2 separate regions of the Homo sapiens genome follow, and region 1 is linked to region 2. The links come from fine-mapping of genetic effects on gene expression. A gene starts in region 2. The other region holds a variant in brackets. All regions are shown on one strand. Distances are from middle to middle.

Evidence for each region. PIP is the estimated chance that this variant, and not a neighbour inherited with it, causes the effect. A credible set is the group of variants that fine-mapping cannot tell apart.
Region 1: its variant is the best candidate, but not a certain one, in a credible set for the expression of TPX2 in subcutaneous fat (FUSION, PIP 0.60).

The regions. Positions count from the first base shown.
Region 1 is chr20:31,843,035-31,848,406 of GRCh38, forward strand. FOXS1 (forkhead box S1) reads right to left here and starts at 2,570. Exons shown (of 1, transcript NM_004118.4): 1 at 1,269-2,570. The coding sequence starts at 2,508. The coding sequence ends at 1,516. It also overlaps a transcript of DUSP15 not described here. RefSeq lists an enhancer at 1,954-2,511. The variant C/G (reference allele first, on the strand shown) is at 3,143.
Region 2 is chr20:31,737,208-31,742,579 of GRCh38, forward strand. TPX2 (TPX2 microtubule nucleation factor) reads left to right here and starts at 2,083. Exons shown (of 18, transcript NM_012112.5): 1 at 2,083-2,414; 2 at 5,334-5,372. RefSeq lists enhancers at 2,096-2,145, 2,236-2,395.

The sequences.
Region 1 (5,372 bases), 110 kb after region 2:
GTGGGAACCAGACAGTTCGGGCTGTCCAGCCGGGCTCGCTTCCTCCCAGGCCCCAGGGGACCTGTCGGGGGAGGAGGGAGCAGCAAAGGCTGGAGTCCTCGGGGCTGCCTGGGCAAGGGAGGGCCTCTGGAGGGGAGAGGGCTGCCTGCCCAAGAAGGGGTCTCCAGCCCCCTGAGTGTAACCTCGTGGGACATAAGACACTCTAGACCACATGCCAAAAACCAGAATGGGGGTGCCCCAGCATCCCTCCCTCCTCTCCCTATGCCCATGATCCAGATAGGAGGACTGAGGCTCTGGGGAGGAAGCCATTCGCCTCTGCTCCTCCAGTGCTGGGGTCTGTGAGGACAGCGATGTTTCAGATTCCTTCTCTGTTCCTCTAACGAGGACCAAGAATATCCCCATTTCTCCTGCTTCCTCGCGAAGGGATAGTCAGAGAAGGTCAAAGGTCAGGGCTCAGTCACTTCTGAATGGTACCTAGGACAGTCACAGCCCATGCTGCTGGCCCCAAGAAATGCCGTCTTAAAGAGTCACCAGAGGACCTCATGGAGCTGGGGGCTCAGGGAAGCTCCCACATTAATGTGGGAAGTCCAAACAGGGGGTAGGTGCTGCCTTTTGAACCCTAGGTGCCCTGTCTGCACAATGGGTAAAGGGTGCCTTTCTAGCCCTGGCCTTCCAGGATTGCAGCAAAGCCCTCCCACCTCTGGGGGCCACCACCAGCTCTGCCCTGACCCTCTTCTCCACCCTTATGTCCTCACTCAAGCTGCAGGTCAGAGGCTGGAGGGTAGAGCCACACAGATGTGGTTTTGATTTACCCTCTGCCACCCATTTGCCCTCTGGAGTTGGAGCTGGCGAGCCTGTTTCCACCACTGTAAACGGGGCCAACTTTCCAAATCACACAGGTGAGATGATACATACAAGCCCGGGACAGGATCAGTGTCACAAATTGTCAGGGTTATGATGACTGCACCTACGGGGGCTAAGTCCCAGCATCTGAGACTGGAGAATCAGTCCCTCAGGCCAGCCCAGTCTTGCCCCTGCCCAGTCTCTCCCTTGCCTGTATCCTCCTCTCCCTGCTCCCCATTCCCTACCTCCCCTTCCTCTCCCTTTCTAGGAAACTCCCTGAGAAAGTCCCCAGCAGGAGAAAACCTCATGTGAGATATTCCCACCAAGGGTCTCTGCCCCCGCTGCACAACCCCACAGCCACAGCCACCCCCACATACAAGCAGGCACCCTGGCCCTCAGCCCCCAGCCATCAGGCAAGCTGACCCTCATCATCACATGGCTTTATTGGCCCTGAGAGCCACAGAGTAAATCCCAAGAGGCCCTGCTTCCCCTCACCCCCAAGTTTGTCCGGAGGCCCCAGGGGCCTGGCTGAGCACCGCTTCAATCCTGGCTTTCTGTGTGGTTGTCCTTGGCTCACCAGGGCTGGGTCCTTCGAGAGTTCTTCAGGTCCTAGAGCCAGGCTCAGCCCGGAGGGTGAGGGACCTGCAGGGACTGCCCGAGGTGAGGCTGCCTTTACTCAAAGAAGAACATTCCTGGCGTCCGGTATAGGCAGGGGGTCAGCCCCAATGGGTAGCCGGAGCCTCCCTGGACAGGGAAGCCACCTGCAACCCAGGGTTCCTTGTGGTCAGTTGGCAGGGGCAGTGGGGCCCGGAGTGAGCCTGGAGGGGTGGGTGGTGCAGGGGAGGGGGCTGCTGAGGCCAAGAGGTGCTCAAGGCCTGGGTCAGCCCCCATGCAAAAATTCAGTGCCTGCAGCCGACACTGGTAGCTGCTCCCGATGCCTGATTCCGGGGACAAGACGGGCGTAGGGGCCTTATTAAAACTCTCAGCCTCTGAGAAGCCGGCAGGAAAGCCAAACGCTGGGCATGAGGAAGATGAGGTGGCCACGGGGAGCTCCCCTGGGCATGCAGGCTTGGGCGTGGAAATCTCTTTGGGCTCCATGGGTGGCCGAGGCCTGCCATCAGTGGTTGCTGGGCACATACTGGCTGGCATGGCCCCCACCAGACCCCCAAAGCTTAGGCCCTTGGGATCTGGCAGCTCTGGTGGGAATGAGCACTGCCTGCCGGTCGTGGCGTTGGGGACTCCTGGGTCCTGGCTGGTCGCCCTGAGGGGTCCACGGCGTGCCTTGGCGGGGCCCCGGGTGCCCTCAGCACCTGTCTGCCGGGTGAAGCGGCGGCGGCGGCGTAGGAAGCTGCCGTGCTCAAACATGTCGTGGCAGTCAGGGTCCAGCGTCCAGTAGCTGCCCTTGCCTGGCTTGCGGTCATCGCGGGGCACCTTGACAAAGCACTCGTTGAGTGACAGGTTGTGGCGGATGCTGTTCTGCCAGCCGGGCCGGTTGTGGCGGTAGAAGGCGAATCGGCCCATGATGTAGCGGTAGATGCCACTGAGGGTGGCCCGCTGCCCCGGTGAGCTCTGGATGGCCATAGCAATAAGGGCGATGTAGCTGTAGGGAGGCTTGGTTGGCTCAGTTGTGGGGGCGCCAGGCCCGGGCAGAGGCTGCTGCTGCATGCTGGCCGGGCTGCCAGGCTGCTGGGACCTGCTGGGTCAGGCTCAGCTTCCAGGGCTGGCGTCCGGAATAGCCTGCCCAGGCTGGTTAAAAGGTCCACTGGCCCAGCCTCCCAGCCTGGAAAGGCAAAAAGGGGTGGGTCTGCTGAGCCATCCTCCCCTCCTCCCTCGCCCCACTCCCACAAGGCCCAAAAGAGGCGGGCAGGAGAGGCCAGTAGTGGGAAGCCGAGCAGCTGCCAGGGATGAGGAGTTGGGAAGGAAGGGACTGAGACCCTCAGCCCACGTGTGCTGGGTGGTGGTGGCTGGGGAGGGACAGGATGTGAAACTGAGCGGGACAGAGACAAAAACAAAATGAGACAGAGGCAGAAACATATGAAACAGAGACAGGGAAAAAAGAGATAGAGACAGAGAGAGGTAGAGACATCACAAGAGGGAGAAAGAGGGAGAGACAAAGATAAGACAGAGGCAGACACAACGGACAGAGACACCCAGAGCCTCTCAGACACTCACAGAGAGACACACAGACATACACGTACAGACACACAGAGACACACAGACATACACGTACAGACACACAGAGACACACAGACACAGACACACACACAGACACACACACACAGACATAAGCACACACACA[C/G]ATATACACAGAGACAGACACACACAGACACATAGGCATACACACAGACACACACACAAGCACATACACAGACACACAGAGACATACACACACAGAAACACAGAGACACAGACACAGACACACACACACACACACACACACACACACGTAGTATACGGAGAAAGTGAGAATCACTGAGCAGGCAGAAACAAGGAAATCCACAAAGCCAGAGAGAAAGGAGATACTGAGAGACACAGGTGCAAACACAAGGAGTGAAAGGAATGAATAGAGAGAGAGAGAGAGAGAGAGAGAGAGAGAGAGGAGAGAGAGGCAGGGCCTGAGCCCAGTCCCCCTAGAGTGAGAGAAGCCCCAGGGGCTTCTCTAATCCCTACCTCTACTCCTGCTTTTCCCTCTTCTCCCAGGCCTGTGGTCTACTGCCTTCTCCTGCGGTGCAGAGGCCTTGGGGCCACACCACTCCTACCCCATCCTCCTAGCTCTGGGGTGTCTGCAGGGAGGGGCACCTAGGATGGTAAGGAGAGCCCATGAAATTCAGTTCTGCTGCATCCCTGTCGCCCCCTAGTGACTGGTGTGGGAAGGACAGCTATCTGGGGAGAGACATTCTCCCTCCCAAGAGGCACCTCAAGACCTTGGCTGAGCCTCAGTTTCCCCATCTCTAACATGGAGCTGGTGACTCCTCAGCTGTCCAGGCCATGGTGGGGAGGCAACAGGTTCCCCTTACACAGAATGCAGCACCCTCATCAAGAGCCTAGTATGGAGTAGGGATATGAACATGGCTGCGGATTGTCACTCTGAACTGAGGCTACCCCAGCTGCAGCCTGGGGTCGGGAGGTCCAGAGAGTCAGGCCCAGAACAGTCAGGCCTTCTGGAGGAGGGGACGGCATCCTCTCTGCTCTCCCACTCCCAAGTCACTGCTCACCCACTCTGTACCAGGCCAGCTCACCTCCCCAACCCTACACTTACTTCTTCAACCAACCCTGCTCTGGAGGGCTTCATTGCTTCTTTTGAATAGATGAGGGCTCTGAGGCTCAGAGAAGGTAAGTAAATTCCCTGATGTCCCACATCTAGTGAGTGACAAAGCTGGATATGAGCCTAGGATTCTGTAATTCCTAAATACTGCCTCTTCAGTGAGGGGCAGGGGTAGCGGAGAGTCGCTGGGTCCCCACTAGAAAACAGAATGTGAACTCCAAGAGAGTAAAGAGCATGCTGTTTTGCTGTACCCCCAGAGTCACACACTGGACACTGGAACAGAGGCCTGGAACAGAGTAGGTGTTCAAGAAATGTCTGCTAAATGACTAAACAAACAGCAATTGATTGATTTCTGTCCTTTATCGAATCACAGTTTTCCCCCCATGAAGGTGGCTTATTAATGTATCATTAAAAGAGACTTACAATATTGGCATCTGTAAGAGGATTCCTATAAATAAAATCAGAACTCAGAAAAGAATAAAAGGCCTGATATGTGGGGTGGAAAACAGCTACTTTATTCCCATGGCAGGGTAACCAACTTTCTGGTTGTAGTCCCCCTTTCCAGTTCTCAGATTGCCTACAACGTACAGCTTGCAAAGACCAGTGGGGCTTGGAGAAGGGCTGGTCTTCCACGTTGACCTCTGCCTTAGGGCTGCATTTGGAGGTCCGCCTCAGTTTCTTCAAAGACAGCATCCTACAGGTGCTGGTACTTCAGTGGTTAGCATCCAAAGCCCAGGGTTCGGCCAAGTTCCCTGTTTTGGGATCCTTCCCAGCCCCCAGAATAAAGAAGAGAGACTAGCTGCAGGGAGGAGGAAGGTTCTGTAAATTCTAGGCCCCTGAGAGGCTAGGCAGTTTTGTTATGGCTTGATCCCACACTAAACAACCCTGATGATCTAATTATTGGTAAAAACTTTAAGCAAACGTTTTAATGGACTCAACAGCAGGTTAAGGCTGGCTCTGAGGAAAGCGCTATTGACAAATTGGGCTGTCAGCAAGAGATGAAGTCTTGCTTCTGCTCCAGTTGCTGCCTTTCTGGGGCCTCAAGATCAAGTTCAGTTTCCTGCCGAAGCCCCATGCCCAGCTGGGGGGCGGTGTGGCCTACTCTCGAGTTCCGGGGCCCCGTGACAGAGGAGTGGAAGGCCGCGATCCACCTCTGCCGTCCGGCAGACCTGGGTGATGTGCCGGGGGAGGCCCCAAGTCTATGGGCTTAGTGTGGGCAGGGTTGGGTGGGAGTAGGGAGCCCCCCTGTTGGGGGCTGCCTTCA
Region 2 (5,372 bases):
GCAACCACCCCATTTTAATTGTGGAAAATTTCAAACTCATACAAGAGTATATGTATGTATTTATGTATCATGAACCCATCACCAGGTTCAACAATTATCAATTTGTAGCTAATCTTGTTTCATCTAAATCCCCACCTACTTATCTTCACTGCCTACTCCCAATTATTTGGAAGCCAGTGCCAGAGTAATTTCATCCCTACCGTATCTATATGTATCTCTACAACACAAGGACTCTTAAAAAAGAAAACAAAAGGTGTGGTGGCTCACACCTGTAGTCCCAGCACTTGGGAGGGTGAGGCGGGGGCATCACCCGAGGTCAGGTGTTCGAGACTAGCCTGGTCAACATGGTGAAACCCCGTCTCTATCAAAAAATATAAAAATTAGCCGGGTGTGGTGGCGCATTTTTAATCCCGGGTACTTGGGAGGCTGAGGCAGGAGAAACCGGGAGGCGGAGGTTGCAGTGAGCTGAGATCACACCGTTGCACTCCAGCCTGGGCTACAAGAACGAAACTCCGTCTCAAAAAACAAAATGAAACAAAACAACAACAACAAAAAGAAAACAAAACCAAACTCTGGCAGTTTATGTTTTGAAGGAACTAAATTGTCCTGTGGTTTTCCTGTCTGGATTTTGCCGATTGCACCCCCATGGGTGTGAATTAACTGAACCATACTTTAAAAATTACTATAATTTCATGTTAATATGTACAAAATCTGTACATAAATCCCCCAATCTTTTTCAAAATTCAAGATGCCAGTACTTGTACTCTTCCATAGGAACTTTAGAATTAACTTGGCAAATTCCAGAACAGAACCCACTGGGACTTTCATTGGAATTGCCTTGACCTTTTTTTTTTTGTTTTGAGACAGAGTCTCGCTCTGTTGCCCAGGCTGGAGTGCAGTGGTGCAATCTTGGCTCACTGCAACCTCCGCCTCCTGGGTTCAAGTGATTCTCCTGCCTCAACCTCCCAAGTAGCTGTGATTACAGGCACGCGCGAGCACGCCCGGCTAATTTTTGTATTTTTAGTAGAGATGGGGGGGGGTTTCAACATTTTGGCCAGGCTGGTCTCGAACTCATCGCCTCAAGTGATCTGCCTGTCTCGGCCTCCCAAAGTGCTGGGATTACATGCGTGAGCTACCGCACCCAGCCTAGGCTTAATTTTTGAATCTTTAGCTTTTGCTGGTATTATGAAGGGGGTTGTTTTGTTGTTCTTGTTGCTGCTATTTTCTAATTGATTAAAAAAAATTAAGATGGTGGGGGTGGTCTCGTTATGATGTCTACGCTGTTCTGGAACTCTTGGTCTCAAGGGATCCTTCTGCTTTAGCCTCCTGTGGAGCTGGGATTATAGGTGAGCGCCACGAAGCCCGGCCTCTAATTAATTATCGGTGGTGTATAAAAAGAACAGACCTTCTTAATTCGAATCCCATCTTCTCCATTTATTATGTGATTTTGGACATGTTTGTTCAACTTCTCCTAGACTTTGTTTTCTTTTTACGACATGGGGATCATAAAGCCGGGATGCAGTTGGGAATAAAACCGGATAAAGCTCCCAACGAACCGCGGGTTTCATAAGATCAGGGCAGGGACTGGGTAAAAGGTTTCAAAGACTCCTGCACTATTGGGAAGGACGCTACGGGCGAGTCTATGTTGCATGCAGGCGACTCCATGTTAAGACGAAGTGAACTCCCTGAACCTTCAAGGGATAATGCACAACCATAACGAGAATAATTTTTAAAAATAGAGTTTTCTTCCCTGAAAACTTGGAGAGGTCCAGGATGCGCGCCATTCTGTGATCTAGGTTGACTCTCCACCTCTTCAGTTGGTACCACCTTTCCCAAATAGTTTGGAGCAGAGCACTCCGGTCTTTGTAATAACGTACTCCTAAGAGCTGTTCCAGTGGACTCACGCAGGCGCAGGAGACTACACTTCCCAGGAACTCCGGGCCGCGTTGTTCGCTGGTACCTCCTTCTGACTTCCGGTATTGCTGCGGTCTGTAGGGCCAATCGGGAGCCTGGAATTGCTTTCCCGGCGCTCTGATTGGTGCATTCGACTAGGCTGCCTGGGTTCAAAATTTCAACGATACTGAATGAGTCCCGCGGCGGGTTGGCTCGCGCTTCGTTGTCAGATCTGAGGCGAGGCTAGGTGAGCCGTGGGAAGAAAAGAGGGAGCAGCTAGGGCGCGGGTCTCCCTCCTCCCGGAGTTTGGAACGGCTGAAGTTCACCTTCCAGCCCCTAGCGCCGTTCGCGCCGCTAGGCCTGGCTTCTGAGGCGGTTGCGGTGCTCGGTCGCCGCCTAGGCGGGGCAGGGTGCGAGCAGGGGCTTCGGGCCACGCTTCTCTTGGCGACAGGATTTTGCTGTGAAGTCCGTCCGGGAAACGGAGGAAAAAAAGAGTTGCGGGAGGCTGTCGGCTAATAACGGTAACGATAATTATTGTTATTACCATGCTAACAGGTTATAAACATTGACTGAACTAAGCACCCTGCATGCCCGTTCTCATTTAATTTCCTCGCCAAGCCAATGTAGTTGGTGCTATTCTTGGTCCCTCTTGACAGAAACTGAGGAAGGAGGAAGGAGGAGGAAACTGAGGCCCAGAATCTAGATAAATTTCGAGAAATGGGTGATACAGTAGCCATGCCCTCAGGAAGTGTGGCGTTTGATGGAGGAAAACAGAGGTAGTCACAAATAAGTACATTTCAAAACTGTTGTCTAAAACAGGAAGATAATTAGATGGTGTGAGAACATAATTGAGGGAGAGTTTAAGTCCACTTGGAGTTGTCTTCTATTTGGGATTTAAAATTCATTATATGTTATCCATATTTGTCCAGCTCTCTTTTTGTATGGAATCACCAGATATTATTCCCTTTCTCATTTCCTTTCTCAACATTTATAGATTGGAGGGGGGAAGGAAAACCAAACCAGGTTATAATGTAGAATTGGTTTACCCCCTATTTTCTTGACATATAACGTCTGGTTTTCCACATATAATTTTCTAGTAGTTCAGTAACATGGACTCCCCCCAAATCAGGCCTACTTAGGATAGAAGAGGATTTTTGACTCCTGGATTTTGCTTTAAGACCAGCTCTTGGTTTACTTCCTGCTTCACCCTTACCTTTTCTTGACATCCTGTGGCCTCTCTTTGAATTTCTCTCACTCATCAAATGTTGTCAAAAATAGGACTACTTGCTGCTGTAGTAAGGATATTCTTGTATTGTGGCCTTAGTGTATTACATCACCCCCACGTCAGACTTGAGTCCCCCTGGTTGGTTTGGGTGAGTCAGTTCAGTATTAAGCTGGCATTCTTGGATCAAAATTATGTGGCTGTCAGCTAACTCAGCCATTTAGTTGACCTTTGAGGGTACTGTGCTCAGATTGGCATGAGATATTATGGGTGTACAGATATATGATGTACTCAAACGTTTTTTGGTATGTTTGGGGACAAAAACATGGTTTGAAATTGGCAAGTGAGAATCAGAGCAAGATAGGACACCATCTGGGTGCTCTACTGTTTTGTATTCTAGGTGTCTGGACAATTTAGAGGTGAGGGAGTTCAAGAGCCAGTTTGTGTTTCTGTGCTTCACAAAGCCACCCTTGTCTAATTCTTGATAACCAGAGTTTGGTTAGACAGGGACTGAAACAATCCTAGTGCATAGGAATCACCCACTAAATACCTGTTGAATTGAGTAGGCAGGAAGGCACTATCTGAATTGACTACAAAATTGCGGGTATGAAAAACTGGATTGTATTCAACTAGGTTGGTAAATTTGTTTAGACTTTCAAATTATCTGAATAGGGTTTATTTGGCCAACCTTATGCATAAATCTGTGTATTCCAACCTTGATAAAATTAATTTATTGCAATTAAGTTTGTCCAGGATTATGTGAGAGAGTCCTTCATTTCATTTCTTTAGTTACCAGGAGATGTTCAGGGCTCATCTACATCTCCTGGTTAATTTTCCTTCAGCTTTTTCTGTGTCTCTTCCCTAATTCTCTTTGAGTTCCTGGGAGAAAGAGGAGGGATATTTAAATGCCCTTTGACATACTTAATTTTCTTTGCTATGGGCAAAGTTAGGAAGCAAAATTGACTATAGAGTTGTTTTTTTTGTTTTTGTTTTTGTTTTTTTTTTTTGAGACGGAGTCTCACTCTGTCGCCCAGGCTGGAGTGCAGTGGCGCGATTTCAGCTCACTGCAACTTCTGCCTCCCCTGTTCAAGCAATTCTCCTACCTCAGTCTCTTGAGTAGCTGGGATTATAGGGATCTGCCACCACACCCGGCTAATTTTTGTATTTTTTTTTTGAGATGGCATCTCACTTTGTTACCTAGGCTGGAGTGCAATGGTGCGCTCTCGGCTCACTGCAACCTCCGCCTCCTGGGTTCAAGCAATTCTCCTGCCTCAGCCTCCCAAGTAGCTGGGACTACAGGCGCATGCCACCACACCCGGCTAGTTTTTTTGTATTTTTAATAGAGATGGGGTTTCACCATGTTAGCCAGGATGGTCTCAATCTCCTGACCTCGTAATCTGCCTGCCTCGGCCTCCCAAAGTGCTGGGATTACAGGTGTGAGCCACTGTGCCTGGCCTAATTTTTGTATTTTTAGTAGATACAGGGTTTCACCACGTTGGCCAGGCTAGTCTCAAACTCCTTATCTCAGGTGATCCACCTGCCTCGGCCTCCCAAAGTGCTGGGATTACAGGTGTGAGCCACCTTGCCTGGCCTTAGAGAGATTTCATAACCCAAGCGATTCTGTGAATAGATCTGTATTTGAGACAGAGATGTAGAGATCAGCAGCCCAAGGTACTCTGTGAAAAAAGGATAGATAACTGCGGAGGGCTTCCGTTTTTGTTTGTGTAGGGAAACTTGGTAAAAGGGGAATAAAGAACAGTGAGAAAAGTATAAAATTGTATCTAGAGGTTACTTTGGAAATTAAAAATAATGTTATTTGTACTTAGTAAAACAAAGTAGTAAAAGTTTGCTCTTTTTTTTTTTTTTTTTTTGAGACAGTCTCACTGTGTTGCTCAGGCTGGAGTGCACTGGCTGGCGCAATCTTGGCTCACTGAAGCTTCCGCTTCCCAGGTTCAAGCGATTCTCCTGCCTCAGTGTCCCGAGTAGCTGGGATTGCAGGCGTGCACCACCATGCCTGGCTAATTTTTGTATTTTTAGTAGAGATGGGGTTTCACCATGTTGGCCAGGCTGGTCTTGAACTCCTGACCTCAAGTGATCCACCTGCCTTGGCCTCCCAAAGTGCTGGGATTATAGGCGTGAGCCACTGCTCCCGGCCTGTTAACCCTTTTTTACTACAGAGAACTTGGAACCTGTTTCATCACTTTTCTGCTTCTTCCAGGTTCTTGATACATATTTGCCAGACTTCAAGATTTCAGAA